Homo sapiens: one gene and its partners. The protein of the gene in region 4 purifies or fractionates together with the protein of the main gene of each other region. This does not show direct contact. Each region holds a gene or a part of one and is shown on either strand. Other genes may lie near its edges.

What was found.
Region 1: the proteins of ABCB10 (region 4) and C10orf88 purify together in Homo sapiens (co-immunoprecipitation; one large-scale study listed by IntAct). This does not show direct contact.
Region 2: the proteins of ABCB10 (region 4) and RFFL purify together in Homo sapiens (co-immunoprecipitation; one large-scale study listed by IntAct). This does not show direct contact.
Region 3: the proteins of ABCB10 (region 4) and IFT43 purify together in Homo sapiens (co-immunoprecipitation; one large-scale study listed by IntAct). This does not show direct contact.

Annotation. Positions count from the first base shown.
Region 1 is NC_000010.11:122,933,172-122,938,128, forward strand, and holds part of C10orf88 (ATPase PAAT), read right to left. Parts: coding exon 4,534-4,957; intron 1-4,533. UniProt on the Homo sapiens protein: ATPase that regulates mitochondrial ABC transporters ABCB7, ABCB8/MITOSUR and ABCB10. Regulates mitochondrial ferric concentration and heme biosynthesis and plays a role in the maintenance of mitochondrial homeostasis and cell survival.
Region 2 is NC_000017.11:35,010,815-35,015,858, reverse strand, and holds part of RFFL (E3 ubiquitin-protein ligase rififylin), read left to right. Parts: intron 1-1,095; coding exon 1,096-1,119; intron 1,120-3,709; coding exon 3,710-3,891; 3' UTR 3,892-5,044.
Region 3 is NC_000014.9:76,016,303-76,021,346, reverse strand, and holds part of IFT43 (intraflagellar transport protein 43 homolog), read right to left. Parts: intron 1-5,044. UniProt on the Homo sapiens protein: As a component of IFT complex A (IFT-A), a complex required for retrograde ciliary transport and entry into cilia of G protein-coupled receptors (GPCRs), it is involved in ciliogenesis.
Region 4 is NC_000001.11:229,544,390-229,549,433, forward strand, and holds part of ABCB10 (ATP-binding cassette sub-family B member 10, mitochondrial), read right to left. Parts: coding exon 4,845-5,044; intron 3,313-4,844; coding exon 3,110-3,312; intron 1-3,109.

The DNA of each region.
Region 1 (4,957 bases), on a different chromosome or scaffold from region 4:
CAATGAACATTAGAACAGTAAGTCTCAGGGCAGGCACGGTGGCTCACGCCTGTAATCCCAGCACTTTGGGAGGCTGAGGTGAGTGGATCACTTGAGGTCAGGAGTTCGAGACCAGCCTGGCCAACATGGTGAAACTCTTGTCTCTTACTAAAAGTACAAAAATTAGCTGGGTATGGTGGTGGGCGCCTGTAGTCCCAGCTACCTGGGAGGATTGCTTGAACCCGGGAGACAGAGGCTGCAGTGAGCTGAGATTGCGCAACTGCACTCCAGCCTGGGTGATAAGACTCCGTCTCAAAACAAGAACAGTAACTCTCAGAATGTGGTCCACAGAACCTTGGGGTCTCCATGATTCTTTTGGGAATTCACTGAGGTCAGAAGTATGTTTATACTAAGATGTTATTCGACTTTCTCATCCTCATACTCATGAATTTTCCAGAGGCTACAAAATCTATGTTATTGCCCTGATGACTAACAGAATCTGTAGTTGTGTATTCTTCTTTCCTAAAATTTCAAGGTAGTAGAGATTTAGTGTATAAATATATGCTTTTTCAGAGATTAATCCACTCTGTTCTCAGTATTCCTACTGTGCTCTTACTAGCTATATTTCACTATACATGCTATAATTCAATATACATGATAATGCAGCCAAAAGCTATTATGTATAGATTCATGTACATTTAAAATAATACTATTCTCAATAAAATTTTAAAAGAAAATCTGGCTTTTTTTCATAAAGACTGTTATTTATGTTAATATACAGTGGGTTTATTGTTATTTTTAAACAAATATTTTTATGTAGCCTACATAAGTTTATTGGAGTCCTCAATTAAGAGTGTAAAGACCAAAAGTCTGAGAGCCACTACTCTAGAATACACCAAAGACAGTTTTTAAGAAACTCTGTATTTTGAAATAATTATGGATTCACAGGAAGTTGCAAAGATATTAGTTTCTCAGTGCCCTTTATCCAATCCTCCCAATGGTCACATCTTATCTACCTATAATCCAATATCAAAACCAGGAAATTGATATTAATATGATGTGTGTGTATAGTTCTATGCCATTTTATCATATGTACACATATTTATTTAAACACCACCATAATCAAAAGGCAGAACCATTCTTTAACTGCAATGATCTCCTCCCTGCTACCCCTCTATTGTCATACCTACTCCCCTAAAGTCTTCTTTCCCTAATACCTGGTAACCATCAATATGTTGTTCATCTCTACAGTTTTATTATTTTGAAAATATTATAAAGTGAGATCATACAGTATGTGACCTTTTGAGATTCTCTTTTGTCACTCAGCAAAATGCCTTTGAGAGATGTCCAAGTTGTTTTTTACTGCTCATCAGCACTGCGTGATATGGAGGTACCATAGTTTAACCATTCACCTATTGCTAAGACATTTTAGTTGGGACTTCTGGGATATTACAAAGAAAGCTTTTATTAATAACTGTGTACAAGTTTCTGTGTGGACCTGAGCTTTCATTTCTCTGGGATGTCCAGGAGTATAATTGCTGGGTTGTACGGTAACTGTATGTTTAGTTTTTAAGATATTGCCAAAATATTTTTTAGAGTGACTGTACCATTTTATATTCCTACCAACAATGTATGAGAGATCCAGTTCCCAAACATCTTTGTCAGCATTTGGTATTGTTACCATTTTTAAATTTTAGCCATCCAAATATGTAGTGATATATTGTGGTTTTAATATGCATTTCCCTAATAGTCACTAAGTCAATGTTGATCAACTTTCCTTGTGCTTATTTGCTATTTGTATATCCTGTCTGTTGAAATGACTATTCTTTTGCCCATGGTTTAAATTGGATTGTTAGGTTTTATTTTTATTTGCTTTTAACATAGAGTTTTGAGAGTTCTTTATGTACTTCAGAGACAGGTCATTTGCTGGATTTGTAATTTGCAAAGAATTTCTCCCAGTCTGTATTTTAATTCCCCTAACAGTGTCTTTCATAAACAAAAGTTTTACATTTTGATGGGGCCCAATAAATCAGTTTTTTATTTTATGGATCACGCTTTTGATGTCATATCTGAGAACTCATTTCCTAGTCCTAGGTCCCTAGAGTTTCTCCTGTAGAAAAGCTTTATAGTTTTATATTTTACATTTTAATCTATAAGTAATTTTGTGTTAATTTTTGCATAAAGTATAAGATTTAAGTCACAATTCATTTTTTGCCTGTGGATATCCAACTGTTCCAGCACAGGTTAAAAAGACAATTCTACCTGTATTGAATTATTTTTGCATTGTCAAACGTCAGTTGGTGTACTTGTGCAGAGTTATTTCTGTGCTATCCATCTATAAGTCTATGCCTCTGACAATAACACAGTCTTGAATACTGTGGCTATGTCTTGAAATCAAGTAGTGATTTCTCTTACACTTTTTCAAAATTTTTTATAGTTCCTTTATTTTTCCATTTTAAAAAATTCTCCATTTCTAAATTTTAGAATCATCTCATTCATATTTATAAAAAATCATGCTCGATTTTTCATAGGAATTACATTAAATTTATATATCAACTAGGAGAGAATTGACGTTTTTACTATGCTGTGTCTTCAAATCCATGAATATGGTATGTCTCTCCAGTTTTTAGGGCTTTTCTTTTCCTTTGTCAGTATTTTATAATTTTCATTTCACATATCCTTATATATTTTGTTAGGTTTATAAATTTTTTCATATATTTTATAAGTATTTTTTATAGATTTACATATTTTACATATATTTACATGCATTTTTGTGTATTTTAATTTTGGGGGGCAATCTAGTTTGGTGTCAGGCTAATACTGACTTCACAGAATGAGTTGGAACATCTTCCCTCCTCTTCTAGTTTTTAAAAGCATGTAAAATTGATGTTCTTTAAATGTTCAGTGGAAACCTTCAGTGTAGCCATCTGGGCCTGGATATTTCTTTTTCATGAGCTTTCCAATCATTAATCAAATATTTTTAGTGGTTATAGGACTATTTTATTACTTATTTCATGTTGGCTGAGTTTGGTTGGTAGTTTGTGGTTTTGGGGAAATTAATCCATTTCTCCTAAGTTGTCAAATTTATGAGCATAAATTTGTTTGTAATATTCCCTCCCTTGTTATCTTTTAACGGCCTTAGGATCAGTAGTGACATCTCATTACATTCCGGATACTGATGATTGCATCTTCTTTTTATCTTTTGATAGTCTTGTTTGAAGTGTATCAATTTTATTGAAATTTTCAAAGAACTGGCTTTTGGCTTCATTGATTTTGTTTGCTTGTTTTCAGTTACACTGATTTCTGTTATTATTTCCTTCTTTCTGCTTGCTTTAAGATCAGTTTGCTTGGCTTTAAAATTGTAAATTCAATTTCTTTAATGGTTATAGGACTATTCAGATTATTTTATTTTGGTTGAGCTGTAGCTTTACGCTACTGATTTAAGAACAATCCTCTTTTCTAATGTAATCATTTAGTGCTATAAATATCCTTATCAATACTTCTTTAACTGCATCCCACAAATTTTGATGTGTTGTATTTTCATTCATTTCTGTGTAATAGGTTTAATTTCTGTCAAGACTTTTTCTTGAACCATAAATTTAAGAATGCTGTGTAATTCCCAAAAATCTGGAAATTTTGTTGTCTTTTATTGGTTTCTAGTTAGATTCATTTATGGTCAGAAAACACACATTGTATTATTTCAATCCTCTTGAATTTGGTCAGATTTGCTTTGTGACTCAAGATATAATCTATCTTTGCAAATCTTCCATAGATGCTTGAAAAAAGTGTATATTCTGCTATTGTTGGTAGAGTTCTCTATAAATGTCAACTCAATCCTGTTGGTTGGTGGTGGCGTTTAGTTACAAAATCATCCAACTACCTCATTTTCAAATAAAATCTCTTAGGCTAAAGAATACTAAACAGTGTGGCAACATGTTTAAGCCAAAACCACACCTAGAGTCCTGAATTCTAGTCTAGAACACCATTTTGACATACTATATCTACTTAAGCAATTAGGAACATAATACTTAGCTATCTCTTAATCAAATATGTACTGCCAAAATAAGGGATTAAGAGACTGGGGATAATAGCTTGTAAACTACAAGTGATTATTATCCTAATATAGTTTTTTAATAATCAGGAATTTGCCTAGACCAAACATAATCTTCAAGGAAAATGTCACAATGACATGCTTAACATACCCAGGCACAAAATAGTACAAATATATAAAAACAACATAAAGATTATAATTCCCACAGCTCCTTTCCATTCATGCAAATCACTTTCTATTCCAACTGTGAACTAATACTTGTGACCCTTCCACAAAATGCCTGGGAAGTGTGCAAAACCTCCAGTTATAGGGACTTCTTTCAAAGTAATCCATTCTACTCTGCAGTTATCCCCTTTAAGTGTATTAATGGTAAAATGTAAAAGTTGCTAAAATTTTCTCTGGAAACAAATTTTAGGCAGTACTCATTGAGACAAATCTGTTTCCTTTCATCTGATTCTTCCACCTACCAAATCGAAACTCGTATGTCTTAAAATAATACTTACCCAACACCAAGAATGCGTTCACCATGCTTGGTGATGTTTTCCTGACACTCGGTCTTATTTCCCACATGGAGATGATTAACTTGACTACATAAATTCTGGAGAAAAGGCAGCAACTCGGAGTTGGGTATATTTGAGTTGTCACTTACTTTCTTTGGTAAGAAAGAGGCCATTGCATTTTTAAGATCATTTTCAAGAAAGGAATGGTTTTGAGGCATAACTTTACACTCATCAAGCTTGGTAGAATTCTCTCCACCAGGCAGTTGTGTACTTTTATCAATGTAAGTTTGTAAGTTTTCAGTCACGTTCCCAGATGTCAATCCAGTTCTAAAAGGAAAAGGTGTGGAGGACGACTTGTTTAAGGTTCCTAAGGTAGATGAGGATTGTAGTCCAATCATATGCTTGTATCCAGAATTGCCCAACACCG
Region 2 (5,044 bases), on a different chromosome or scaffold from region 4:
TCTGGGTCTGTGGTTAAATGAGTTTAGGGAAAAATACCTCATATCTTCATTACTGATTTATGGTAGATTTTTATATTAAAGGCAGAGAAGTCCTGCAGAAGAGAAATGTGTTTTGGCTGTTTTGAACTTAGCATTTCCTGAAATTATTTCACCACAGAATCTTCTCCTTTCCTCCCATCCCCAGTTGATTTGGTTCCTACAGAGCAACATACTGATTCCTTGCTTGGTAAGAGTGGTTGAAGTCAGGTTTCAGGCTCTCTTCTACCAGTAGCTCAAATTCATCAGTGTTAGGGGTCATCTGACTGACTCTTCACCCGATTACAGACTGAGGCCTACTGACATGGAGTCTGTTTTCCCTTTGGGATTGTTTCAAGAGTCTTCTCTCCAGTCGTCAGGACCTGGGGAACAGAACAGATGACTCCACGTGGGAACTTTATCCAGATTCTCTGACTGACTGAAACAGCTAGATAGTTCATTCTTTCTTGACTTTAATGCTGACTTCAAAATAGAAAAGGATATTGCACATATACAGTATCCTTCTACTTGGCAGTTTGTGCAAACTGGTGGAATACCTTTTCCTAAGAGTAGACCAGGCTGGGTGTGTTGGCTTATGCCTGTAATCCCAGCACTCTGGGAGGCTGAGGCAGGTGGATCACTTGAGATCAGGAGTTCAAGACCAGCATAGGCAACATGGTGAAACACCATCTCCACCAAAAACAAAAAATTAGCCGGGAGTGGTGGCATGTGCCTGTAGTCCCCAGGTACTCAGGAGGCCGAGGCAGGAGAATCGCTTGAACCCATGAGAAAGAGGTTGCAGTGAGCCAAGATCATGCCACTGCACTCCAGCCTGGGCAAGAGAGTGAGGCTCCATCTCAAAAAAATAAAAAATAAAAGTAGACCAGATGCACGAGTAGGAGCTTTGTGTGAGTTCTGAGCATGTAGAGCGAGTAGAGGGCAGATGTCCATCTAGGCTCTTGGCAAGCCTGGTTCCCAGCAGGGAGTGGTAAGAGTTCAGAAATGATGTCAGGGCAGTAAGAGACTGTATTTGTACCATCATGCCTTACCTATTCAGACATCCTTCTCTTTCCTTTTCAGTCAGTGGTGCCGAAGACCAAAACGGTATGTAGTTGTTTCTGTTTGGGAATGGGCTTAGGCCCTTTTGTCCTTCCCCTCCTTCAACCCCAATCCCTTTAGTAATCTAAGAATTCTGAGCATTTGAGCCCCCAGAGAGAGGGTGTGTGGGAAACTCACTGAGACCCAGGGGGCCTCTCACCATCTTTAGAAATTCTCTCTGCTCGCTGTGCAGGAAGCAGAGTGGAGCATACGTAGGGGCGGACTGACTGATGTGCATGTCCCTGGGCTACCTGAGCTCATAAGCCAACATTTGTAAAACACTGAAACAGAGGAGGGGTGGCATGTATCACACTCAGCTCATTTTTTAAAATCTTGGTGTTTTCAGTTCTGGTCTGGGTAGGGAGGGTCTCTGTGTACACCTTCTGGGGAATCAGGGTGTTTAGCAGCTTCTGGTACTAACCAAAAAGAAAGGGTGGTGACCTGAGACAGCCCTGTTTGTACAGGGCTGGTAATGGTTAGAGCTACTCTGGAGCTAACACATGTGCTACTCTCTGGGCACAAGCTATATATCTCAGCTCAGCTGCCACTCACTTAAAGACCACCACTGGGCCCTCAGGTACTCCCAGAACACACTGCAGAACTCCTGACCATCTGTGGGGACATTCTAAAATATGCTATGTGTTTTCAAAAGCCTCAAGGGTATATGGTTGTGAACTCCCTTCCAAGAGAGAACGTTCTAAGAGTAGTGTTGGACTAGCCTGCAGCATTTTAAAACTTATTTCAGAAGATTTCCCAAATTTATTTAGTAAAATGGCCTTTTGCTCAGAATGGGCAATTTTATGTCTGATTACTTCTAATCAGACATAAAAAACAGTTGAGCTTTTCTCAATTCCCCAAAACCATTTGGAGTTCTAGACCCACCTCCACCCTCCAACCCCCCAGCATCACCGGTACCAAGATCAGGCTGATCTACTTGGTGCTTCCTTTCTTTTTCTGATTCCCTGGGAGAATGCTGACAACTGAGTTAATGTGTTTGTTGTTACTTCTGAGAGAATGAGTAACTGAAAATTATAAATTATTCCCATTCATCTTAGGTATTTGTATAGTCTCCAAACCTCTGTTAGGACCAACAGCACCTCAAAAGAGGCAAATGGGTTTCACTCCCTTTCACACCCAGCCTACCTCCTAGGGGGAAGTATTTCTTGACTTTTTAATAGTCCAGAAAAGAGAAAGTATAGATGCAATAAGGGAGAATTCCTCTATGGGTTGGCCAACCCCCAGATGGTAGAGGTGACTTCTGTGAGATCAGTTCCTTTTTATGGGTACCTACTTCAGGCTACAATTTAAGACATATTGGAGATGGCTGGGCTTTTGAACATTATTTTTTCTGTTTGGGTCAGCTCTACTAGGATACTGGTCATGCCCACTATATTCTGCTAGTGACACAAGCCAGTTAGCATTTATTGAGAACCCTGTGCACTCAGCAGTTGATACTGTCTGGATAGTTTCTACTCTTAGGGCAGTTAGGCAGAAGGCCATTCTAGAGCAGGAGCTGTGGGGCCAGCCTGCCTGGGTTTGAATCCTGGCTCCTCGACTTAGCAGCTTTGTGCCCTTGGGCAAGCCACTTAACTTTTTTGCCCCAGTTGGCCTCATCTATAAAATGAAAATAACAAGAGGTCCTACTTTATAGTTTTTGTGAGGCTTCAGTGAGTTAACACATGCAAAGCTTTCAGGACCCTGCCTGGCACACGGTAAGCATTCAGTAAATGTGGGATGTTGTCATTCCCTTGGGAAGATGTTCATTCATCAGACATTTAGAGTACCTACCATATAACTGGCATTGGGGGCTTCAAAGATGAATATCTAACCTTGGAGCATGGAATAAATGCTAAGCATATAATTGTAAAAATTGATTGAATATGTTGAATTAAAGAGCTCATAGTCTACTCTGGGAGTAAGTAGGCAAACTCAAAATTTTAATCCAATGTGATAAGCAGTCATGGGGGTATAAAAAAGTTTTGTGGGGGTAGAAAGAGGGAGCAGTAATCTCTGCCAAGTTTCTCCACCAGGAAGTTTCCTCAGGAAACCTGGGAGTAGTTTGTGAGATAGCAGAGGGGTCCCCCATGATCCCTGACTTTATTAAATGGAGGATATGTTTATAGATAAAGCCTTGTGATCCTTAATGAACCATTCATCACAGTTCCATTTCTATCTAAACTTTTCTGAACCAGTTTTATCTTTTTAGCCTGTTCTGCCTCAGGGGATAATGAGTCCCTACGTGCCACTCACACACTCACTATATTACAGCCCCAACAGTCTGAAAATTATTTCTTTTAAGCTTTGAGAACTTTGCCTTAGTTCTCATGTTCTGGGATGTGTCTGATCCACAAGTGCTGTGTACTTTTCAAATCTTTACCTGTTGGAGGGGATGAAGTGTGGATTAAACAAGTAACCAGAGTTGGTTATTGAGGAAATGTTTCCTCGGAGGAGCTCTATTTGAGGGAAGCATGTGCACTGAGACTTTGTTTACAATGTACCTGTTATCTCCCACCTCCCTCCCCCAGTCACCCCTATACACTTAAGACATTCTCCTCACTCCTCTGCCCCTTTTTTTCTGCCCTGTGTGTTTGTACAGGGGGAGCAGTACCATCAGGCTTGGAGGAGAACCTGTGTAAGATCTGCATGGACTCACCCATTGACTGTGTTCTTCTGGAGTGTGGCCACATGGTAACCTGTACCAAGTGTGGCAAGCGCATGAATGAATGTCCCATCTGCCGGCAGTATGTAATCCGAGCTGTGCATGTCTTCCGGTCCTGAGAGCTTGCATCGGTTTCTTCAGTGCCTTACAGGGAAATAGCCTGGGGTGTCTGGGCTCAGGGTTGGCCAGCTTGCAGAGGAGCAAGCTAGTAGAAATATTGCAGGGTTCCCAAAACCAGGTCAAGCAAGATGCCATGTCACCCCTGAGCATGCCTGTCTTCCCAGGGGTGTACCTCTTGGCTGGCAAAGCCCAAGGCCAGTGGGAACTTGTATAAATCACATGGGTATGTTCTTGGTTCAGTGATCTTGGAGTGATGATGGTAACTGATGAACAGAGAACTTTCCAGAACTTGGGTCCTGTCTTCCTCCCTGAACCTAGACAGTTTCACCCCTCCTCCTGTACCCAACCCATCCCCACCCCATATGGGAGATGCTTGCCCATGTGTTTCATCAATCAGAAGTCCTCCTCCCCAGCACATTCGGATTTAAATTTCTGGTCTCTCCGGCTTTCTGTGCTTTAACTATCTTTGCTAAAGTCTCTTGCTACATTGCCTAAATCCATTTGTTTCTTTGGACCAAAAATGTTAGTTTACCAGACCGATAGTGGTCCTTAGGACAGATTTTAGACCAGTAAACTTATCTTTGGTGAGAAATGAAATACAAATGCTATAGAAAAATTTCAAAGTTGTTAAAAGCCACTTCATTAAATGCTGGGATTGGAAGCTGTTGGTCTCCTGACCTGACTCTGGGAGCCAACAAAACATCAGGCTCCCAAACTGCTGGGAAATTTGTTTCTGTCTGCAAGGGATAGTGCGTGCATAATCCCTGCTGCTGCTTCTCTTGGGACCTGATTTGCACCATCCTTAGTTTATGCGGAAAGGGGAAGCAATGGGTGGAGGCAGTGGCCTTCTCCTTAATTTTGGCTTGGCTTCTGATCCTTTTCCCAACTAGAAGTCTTAAGCCACTTTTCGCTGAAAATGAAATCCCTCCCTTATCCATGGTAGTTTTAAATTTGGTTTCATTGAAGAAATAGATTTAGGCAAAGAGCCTGTGCTCTTCTCTGGCCAGACTGCTGTTGAAGTTCCTGGAGAGCAAATGTTAAGACAGAGCACTTAAGAGCTTTCAGGAGGTACTGAATGAGACTGGATTCTGTTGTAAGCCGACAGTTCAAGTCTTTATTTCCCAGGTTGGTGGGGAGTGAGGAGACCCTACT
Region 3 (5,044 bases), on a different chromosome or scaffold from region 4:
AGAGTGAGACTTGCTTAGAAGAGATAAACTAAATTGGTGGGTGGATTAAAAATCTACTCAAGAGGCCTACACCAACCCCTGCCACTGCTGCCAGTGACCGAGTACAGTGTCTAAGAGGCTTGGGGATTGACTTGCCTCCAACCCCCACCACCACTAGCACCCATGTATGCCATCTAGGGGCCTGAGGATAGGCTGACCCCACCCACCACCACCACTGCCAGCACACACATGACCCAGGGGCATAGGATGGATCCACCCTGCCCACCACCACTGGTGCACATTTTCTGGGGTCTAAAGGACCGTTCTGCCCTGTCTGCCACCCATGCATAGTCTGCGAGCCTGGGAATAGGCCTACCCTGCCTGCCACCAGTGTCCATGTATGTCTCCCAAAAGCCTGATGGCCAGTCTACCCAGCTTGCAGCCACCACCCACCCACATGCACTACCTGGGGACTGGCTCACCTGGCCCACCACTGCCACCCCCGGCACCTGAGCAAGGCACTGGAGGCCTAAGGACTGACCTGCCCAGATCCACCATCACCAGAACCCATGTACACCACCTGGGGGGCCCAGGGACTAGCATACCTGGCTTGCCACCACTACCACTGGTGCCTAAGGACCAGCCCACTTGGTATCCCCATTTGCAATAAAGCCTTGTCACAGCCTCCAATAACAACTATAGCCTAAGCCACTAAAGAACCCATAGATACCCACTGATGCTGATTACAGCTGAAGATATATAAAAACTACATCACTGCACCCACCCAGAATCAAAGCCAAAGCACCCCACCCTACCAACACCATAGATACATCTATAGGGAAGTCTTTTCTTATGGAAGTCAATCCATAAGACTGGAAGATGCAACTATTACACCAGATACACAGATATCAATGTAAGAACACAGGAAACATGAAAAAGCAAGGAAACATGACACCTTTAAAGGAACACAATAATTCTCCAGTAACAGATCCCAATGAAAAGACAATCCATGAAATGGATAAAAAAGAATTCAAAACAATGATATTAAAGAAACTCAGTGAGGTATGAGAGAACACAGATAAAGAGTACAAAGAAGGCCGGGTGCGGTGGCTCATGCCTATAATCTCAGCACTTTGGGAGGCCAAGACGGGCAGATCACAAGGTCAGGAGATAGAGACCATCCTGGCCAACATGGTGAAACCCCATCTATACTAAAAATACAAAAATTAGCTGGGCGTGGTGGCGCATGCCTGTAATCCTAGCTACTCAGGAGGCTGAGGCAGGAGAATCACTTGAACCAGGAAGTCAGAGGTTGCAGTGAGCTGAGATTGCGCCACTATACTCCAGCCTGGCAACAGGGAGAGATTCCGTCTCCAAAAAAAAAAGAGTACAAACAAATCAGAAAAATGATTCATGATCTGAATGGGAAAGTCAATAAAGAGATAAACATCATAAAAAAGAACCAAATAGAAATCCTGGAACTGAAGAAGTCAATGAAAGAAAGAAAAAATACAATCAAGAGCTTCAATAATAAACTAGATCAAGCAGGAGAAAAAGAATTTCAGAACTTGAGGACAGGTCTTTTGAAATAACTCAGACAAAAAAGAAAAAAGAATAAAGGAAGCCTACTTGACATATGCAACACCATAAAGAAAACAAGTATTAAAATTTTTGAAGTCTCAGAAGAAGAGATGGGCAAAGGTATTGAAAACCTATTAATGCAATAATAGCTGAAAACTTCTCAAGTCTTGAAAGAGATATAGATATTCAGATACAGGAAGCTTGAAGGTCTCAAAATAGATTCACCTCAAAAAGATCTTCTCCAAGGCACATTATAATCAAAATGTCAAGTCAAAGACAAAGATAAAATTCAAAAAAACAACAGGAGGAAAGTGTCAAGTCACATAAAAGGGAATTCCCAGCAGAAACCTTACGGGCCAGGAAAGTTTGGGATGATATATTCAAAGTGCTGAAAGGGAAAAAAAAAAAGGCAGCTATGATTACTATACCCAGCAAAGCTATTATTCAAAAATGAAGGAGAAATAAAGTCCTTCCCAGATAAGCAAAACCAGAGGGAATTCATCACCACTGACAAGCCTTTCAATAAATTATTAAGGGAGTCCTACATATGGAAGTGAAAGAACAATATATACCATCATGAAAACACAAGACAGTATAAAACTCACTAGTAGAACAGATACACAAATGGGAAAGAGAAAGAATTCAAACATTACCACTTCAGAAAACCATCAAACTGCAATGATAAAACTTAAAAGAGGAAGTAAGGAAAAAAGGATATATAAAACAACCAGAAAACAATTAATAAAATGGCAGAAATAAGTCCTTAGCCATCAATAATAACCTTGAATGTAAATGGATTAAACTCCTCACTAAACTGGCTGGCTAAATTAAAAAGCATCACTATTTGCTGCCTATAAGAAACTTACTTCACTTATAAAGACACACATAGACTAAAAGTGAAGGGATGGAAAAAAATTCCTGCAAATAAGAACCCAAAGCAAGCAGGAGAAGCTATACTTACATGAGATAACACAGACTTTAAGTCAAAAACTGTAAAGAAGGTCATTCTATAATGATAAGGGGATCAATATAACAGTTCTAAATATATATGTACCCAACACTGGAGCCTCCAGATAATAAAAAGCAAATATTATTAGATCTAAATAGACTCCAATACAATAATAGTTGGTGACTTCAACATCCAACTGTCAGCACTGGAGAGATCATCTAGACAGAAAACCAATAAAGAAAACTGGGAATTTAAACTGCACTTTAAACCAAATGAAACTAACAGACATTTACTAAACATTTCATCCAATAGCCGCAGAACACACATTCTTCTCATCAGCACGTGGAACATTCTCCAGAATAGACCATATGTTAGGCCACAAAACAAATGTCAAGAAATTTTTAAAAACCAAAATCATATCAAGTATCTTTCAGATGACAATGGAATAAAACTAGAAATCAATAACAAGAGGAATTATGGAAACTGTACAAATACATAGAAATTAAACAACATGCTCCTGAACAACCACTGGATCAATGAAGAAATTAAGAAGAAAATTAAAAAATTTCTTGAAACAAATGAAAACAGAAACACAACATACAAAAACCTATGGGATACAGCAAAAGCAGAGCCAAGAGGGAAGTATAGCAATGAATACCTACATCAAAAAAAAAAAGGAAAGATTCTGAATGAACAAGCTAACAACACACCTCAGGGAACTAGAAATGCAGGAACCAGCTAAACCCCAAATCACTAGAAGGAAAGAAATAATAAAATCAGAGCAGAACTAAACAAAATAGAGACTTAAAAAAATACAAACGATCAATGAAACAAAAGATAGTTTTTTGAAAAGATAAACAAAATTAGTAAACTGCTAGCTAGACCAACCAAGAAAAAAGAGAGAAGACCCAAATAAATAAAATCATAAATGAGAAAAGAGACATTACAACTGATACCACAGAAATACAAAGGATCATAAGAGACTATTATGAACAAGTATATACTAATAAATTGGAAATCCTAGAGGAAATGGACAAATTCCTGGACACGTACAACCTACCAAGATTGAACCAGGAAGAAATAGAAAACCTGAACAGACCACTAACAAGTAATGAGATTGAATCAGTAATAAAAAGCCTCCCAACAAAGAAAAGCCCAAGACTAGATAGCTTTACTATTGAATTCTACCAAACTTAAAAGAACAAACACCAATTTTTCTCAGTCTATTCCCAAAAATTGAATGGGAGGAAATTCTTCCTAACTCATCTACAAAGCCAGTATTACTCTGACACCAAAACCAGATAAGGACACAACCACCACAACAACAACAACTATAGGCCAACATCCCTGATGAACATAGGATGCAAAAATCCCCAACAAAATACGAGCAAACTGAATCCAACAACACATCAAAAAGATAATACACCATGATCAACTGGGATTTATCCCAGGGATGCAAGGAGGGTTCAACACAAGCAAATCAATAAATCTGATATATAACACCAATAGAATGAGGGATAAAAACCACATTATCATCTTAATAGATGCAGAAAAAGCATTTGATATGATTGAACATCCCTTCATAATAAAAATTCTCAGCAAATCAGGCACAGAAGGAACAAATCAGTCCTCAACTTAATAAAGGCCACATACGACAAACCCACAGCTAACATCGTACTTAATGGAGAAAAGCTGAACATTTTTCCTCTAAGAACTGGAACAAGACAAGGATGTCCACTTTCACCACTTTTATTTAACATAGTCCTGGAAGTTCTAGCCAGAGTAATCAGTCAAGAGAAAGAAATAAAACTCTTCCAAATTAGACAGGAAGTGAAATTGTCCCTCTTTGCAGATGATATGATCTTATAAATACAAAAACCTAAAGATTGCATCAAAAAATTCTTAGAATGAATAAATGAATTCAGTGAAGTTGCAGGATACGAAATCAACACACAAAAATCAGTAGTGTTTTTACACACCAATAACAAACTAGTTGAAAAATAAATCAGGAAAGCAATCCCATTTATAATAGCTACAAAAAAAATACTTAGGAATACATTTATCCAAGAAGGTGAAAGACTTCTACAACGAAAATTACAGAACACTAACGAAAGAAATTGAAGAAGACATAAACAAATAGACATCCCATGCTTATGGATCAGAAGAATTAATATTGTTAGAATGACTGTACTACCCAAAGGAATCTACAGGTTCAATACAATTCTATCAAAATACCCACGATATTCTTCACAGAAACAGAAAAAACAACCCTAAAATTTATATGGGACCACAAAAGGGCCTGAATAGCCAATGCAACATTGGGCAAAAAGAACAAAGATGGAGGCATCACACTATTTGACTTCAAAATATATAATACTACAAAGCTATAGTAACCAAAACAGCATAATATTGGTATAAAAACAAATAGATCAAAGGAAGAGAATAGAAAACCAAGGAATAAATCCATGTATTTCTAGCCAAACGATTTTTGAAAACAACACCTACAACATATTAGGGAAAGAACAGTCTCCTCAA
Region 4 (5,044 bases):
CTAGGCAACAGGGTGAGACCTTCTCTCAAAAAAAAAAAAAAAAAAAAAAAAAGGAATAGCAGAAACACAACTTAATGGTGGGTAGGCCCACTATGTAAATTAATAAATTGGCAGTATGCCATACACAATATCAGGTTCTCATAACTGGACTTCCCCTATGTCAGGTCCATGAGTTTGTGCAGGAGAAACAAAGTCACATTTCTGATCCCCTAGAGCCAAAGATCAGATCCTAGGTGAAGCCACTTCCTGAGGCCCTTTTACAGACTGAATGGAAATTCCCCCTGAAATTCACATGTTGAAGCCTTAATCCCCACCATGGCTGTATTTGGAGATGGGGCCTCTAAGAAAGTAACTAAGGTTAAATGAGGTCGTTAAGTGTGGGGCCATGATCCAATAGGATTAGTGTCCTTATAAGAGACACTAGAGCACACTCTCTCTCCACTATGTGAGCACATGGCAAGATGGCAGCTGCCTACCAGCCAAGAGAAAAGGCCTCAGAATGAAGCTATTTTGCTAGCACCTTGACCCTGGACTTCTAACCTCCAGAATTGTGAGAAATACATTTCTGTTGTTTCAGCCAAGCCACAAGAAAAGGCCTCAGAATGAAACTATTTTGCTAGCACCTTGACCCTGGACTTCTAACCTCCAGAATTGTGAGAAATACATTTCTGTTGTTTCAGCCACCCAGTCTGTGGTATTATTATGGCATCCCAAACAGACCCCTTTGAATTGCTCATCTGACCTACACTGAATTCCCTTTCCTTGTTACAAAAAGTACCCCAAGTGATTTTTCCCAGCTTGAACTCTTCCTGATCCCCAAAACTATTCATATTTGGAAAACGGCATGTTAGTGCAGGAAGGGTCCTCTTCCAGAGGTTTGCTTCTCTCTTAGCTGGAAAATCATGAGATTTCAAAGCTGTTTTTCATTCCGTAAGTCAGATCTAATAGGCAACACACCCTTCCTCTCTAAGTGCTTCATGGGACACAAAGGACAGAATCCAAGCTTTTCCACTTGTGAGAAAGGATTATTTACAGTTCTTATTCCACGAGTCTAGAACTGCACTGCCCAAAACGATAGCCCTACTGGAAACTTGAAATGTGGCAGGTATGACTGAGACATTGACTTTTTAATTGTATTTAGGTTTAATTAAAATTTAAAAGCCTATACTCCATTCAGTTATTGGCAAACTATTAAGTATGTCTGGAAAACTTGAGTATGTCAAACTACTTTTTCAATTGTACATTTTATAAAATCTAAATATAGATCAAGTACTTTCAATGAAAATTTAGCATCCGAATTAAGATGTTCCTTAAGTAGAGAATACACACCAGATTTGGAAATTCAGTTGACCTTTGAACAACATTGGTCTGAAATGCATGGGTCAACTTATACATAGATTTTCTTCCATCTCTGCCACCCCTGAGACAGCAAGAACAACCTTTCTTCCTCCTCTCAGTCTACTCAGTGTGAAGACAATGAGGATAAATACTTTTGTGATGAGCCGGGCGCAGTGGCTCACGCCAGCAATCCCAACACTTTGGGAGGCTGAGGCAGGCAGATCACGAGGTCAGGAGTTCAAGACCAGCCTGGCCAACATAGTGAAACCCCATCTCTACTAAAAATACAAAAAAATTAGCGAGGCGTGGTGGCTGGCACCTATAATCCCAGCTACTCGGGAGGCTGAGGCAGGAGAATCACTTGAACCCGGGAGGAGGAGGTTGCAGTGAGCCAAGATCGTGCCATTGCACTTCAGCCCGGATGACAGTGCGATACTCCGTCTCAAAAAAAAAAAAAAAAAGCTTTTATGATGATCCACTTCCACTTAATAAATAATAAATATATTTTACCTTCCTTATGATTTTCTTAATACCATTTCTTTTTTCTAGCTTACTCTGTTATAAGAACATAGTATATAATACATATACCAAATACATGGTAATTGACTGTTAATGTTATCAGTAAGGCTTCTGGTCAACAGTAGGCTATTAGTAGTTGAGTTTTTAGGGAGTCAAAAGTTATACTTTGATTTTTGACTGTGTGGGCTTCAGTGTCCCAACCCCTGCATTGTTCAAGGGTCAACTATAATATGAAAGAAATAATATAAAATACCTCATTAATAATTTTGATATTAATTACATCTTGAGATGACAATATTTTGTTTATACTGGCTTAAACAAAACATTATTAAAATTAATCTCAGCCAGGTACAGTGGCTCAAGCCTGTAATCCCAGCACTTCAGGAGGCCGAGGCAGGAGGATCACTTGAGGCCAAGAGTTTGAGACCAGCCTGGGCAACATAGAGAGACCCTGCCTCTACAAAAAATATATATATATATTCTTTAAATTAGCCAGACTTGGTGGTGTGTGCCTGTAGTCCCAGATACTTGGGAGACTGAGGTGGGAGAATCACTTGAGCCCAGGAGTTTAAGACTGCAGTGAGCTATGATCTTGCCACTGTACTCCAGCCTGGGTAACAGAGTGAGACTGTCTCTAAAAAAATTAAAATTAAAAAAAAAATTAATCTCATTGGCTTCTTTTTGCTTTTTTAAATGTGGCTACTAAAACATTAAAATCACATATGTGGCTTGCATTGCCTCTCCAATGACCTGCAGCACTGGGCTGAATAGAAATACTGGTTGAAGAGGTAAGGCAAGCAGACAGGACAGGCACAAGCCACCCAGTTAAGGAAAGGAAAAAAGGCCATGGGAGTGAAGAGCTCTCCCCTTAAAAGAGCACAGTTCGACTTACACACACAGAGGAATGGAATTTAGTCACCGCTTGGTGCCACCCACAGGGTAGTACCCAGTGCTCCTTCTACCTGATGCTCTTTTCTGCCTTAATACCCCGGGTACACACATCTCAGAATACCCAGCAGTAACACATGAGTCCATTTTCCAGATAATCACTCATTCTGGAGAAATGAAGGTACAAGAGGCCATGCAGGCAGAGGCAATCCCCACGTTCCAGCAGCTTCTGCAACAGCACTTTTGGCTCTAGGCACTTACAGAATGATGCGAACCGCTCAGCTTGAGCTCGTCTCACACGTGAGAGGCCTGGTGCAAGCCAAGCCCTGGCAGGAAGGTACCAAGGGGAACCAGGCCCACATACCATCATACTGATGCCTACGGAAGCCTGGGCCCCGGCCCTGAGCCCATCTGAGAGGTTTTCAGTCACTGAGCGCCCCAGGAGTGCAGTGTCTGATGAGAGGCGGTTAATCAATTCTCCTGTGCGAGTCTTGTCAAAGAAAGCAACCTCCTGCCTCAGAATGGAGGAGAATAATGAAGTTCTCAGCCTATTCACAATGCGCTGACCTGCAAAAGCAAACACGAACAGGCTCACCAAGGGTAAAGACATCCATTACCATTATGGGGCAGCCACTTACTGTGCAGCAGCTTGGCCTGGAGTTGTAACCCTCCTGAGCAATGCAGCCTCTGAGCGTGTCTGCTGCACTGTATCCCATGGGTGGAAAGAGACTTTCCCAAACCAGGCACATTAACTGTCATGCACTACTAACACTACTTTTCTCTTATTAACTACAGACTGTGGGCGCTAGTGAGAGGATACAGGAATAAAATAAATATAACATGACTCAGAGGCCTTTTTTATTTTTACTTTTTTTTTTTTTTTAAGAGACTGGGTCTTGCTCTATCACCCAGGCCTGAATGAAGTGGCACGATCACAGTTCACTGTAACCTCAACCTTGTGGGCTCAAGCCATCCTCCCACCTCAGCCTCCTGGGTAGCTGAAACTACAGATGTCCGCCACTACACCCAGCTAACTTATTTTTATTTTTTATATAGACGGAGTCTTGCTATGTAGCTCAGGCTGGTCTCAAACTCATGGGCTCAAGCAATCCTCCTGCCTCAGCCTCCCAAAGTGCTAGGATTACAGGCATGAGCCACCACACTTGGCCGAGATTTTTTTAAGGTATTATTTACAAAGAAGTTTTATTACATTAACTTCCAAAAGCTCATTTTGTTCCTCCCTGGAAACCCTTTCCTGTATTGAACCTTCAAATGGCAAGAATTGGTTAATTATCCACAGAGATAAATGGAGAGCAACAGACTTCGAGTTGGTGTCCCAGGTTCTCTCATTATTGTGGCAGTGACCTGCCTGTAAAAACAAGACCTCTTCAGAGAAATACTAACAAAGTTATCATCCCAGCTGCTACTTAAGGAGAAACACAAGCATGGGGCATGTAAATGGGTTTCTGAAGCCTTCAGGAAGCCTCAGAAGTCCAGCTTCATGGCCAGGGGCCTCATTTTCTTTTTTTTTCTTTTTTTTTTTTTTGAGATGGAGTCTCGCTCTGTCCCCCATGCTGGAGTGCAGTGGTATGATCTGGGCTCACTGCAACCTCTGCCTCCCAGGTTCAAGCGATTCTCCTGCCTCAGCCTCCTGAGTAGCTGAGATTACAGGCACACACCACCACGCCCGGGTAATTTTTGTATTTCTAGTAGAGACGGGGTTTCACCATGTTGGCCAGGCTGGTCTCGAACTCCTGACCTCATGATCCACCTGCCTCAGCCTCCCAAAGTGCTGGGATTACAGGCATGAGCCACGGCACCCAGCCCGAGGGGCTTATTTTCAAACCTCCCATAAGACCGACATGATTGCCCTTACAGCTCAACTTCAACTATAAAAGAAGAGTTGAGAGTGCTTGATCTAAAATAATCTGTAACTCCAACATCTGGGCAGTCATTGGACTCTATCCCCACTTAATGGGATGCCAGGAAGAGAGGAAGAGAATGGAGCCTGGAGCACATGAGATTTGAGCCCGAACAAACCCACAGGACTCTACATCTTCTTCAGGATGACTCACATCCCTGAGAGGAGAGACTGTTACCTGAAGTTTGCATGAGGTAGACACGAATGGCATTGGCGGCAGCACCACACAGAAACACGGCACTGAGCCCTAGGCAGAGGCGGGTCAGGTTGTCGCTGTAGTCCACAGTGGGGTTGGTATAGATGACATCAATGATCTTCCCCAGGAAGAAAGGGGCAGACATGGAGATAACACTGGACATCGTGAGAAATCCAACCGCA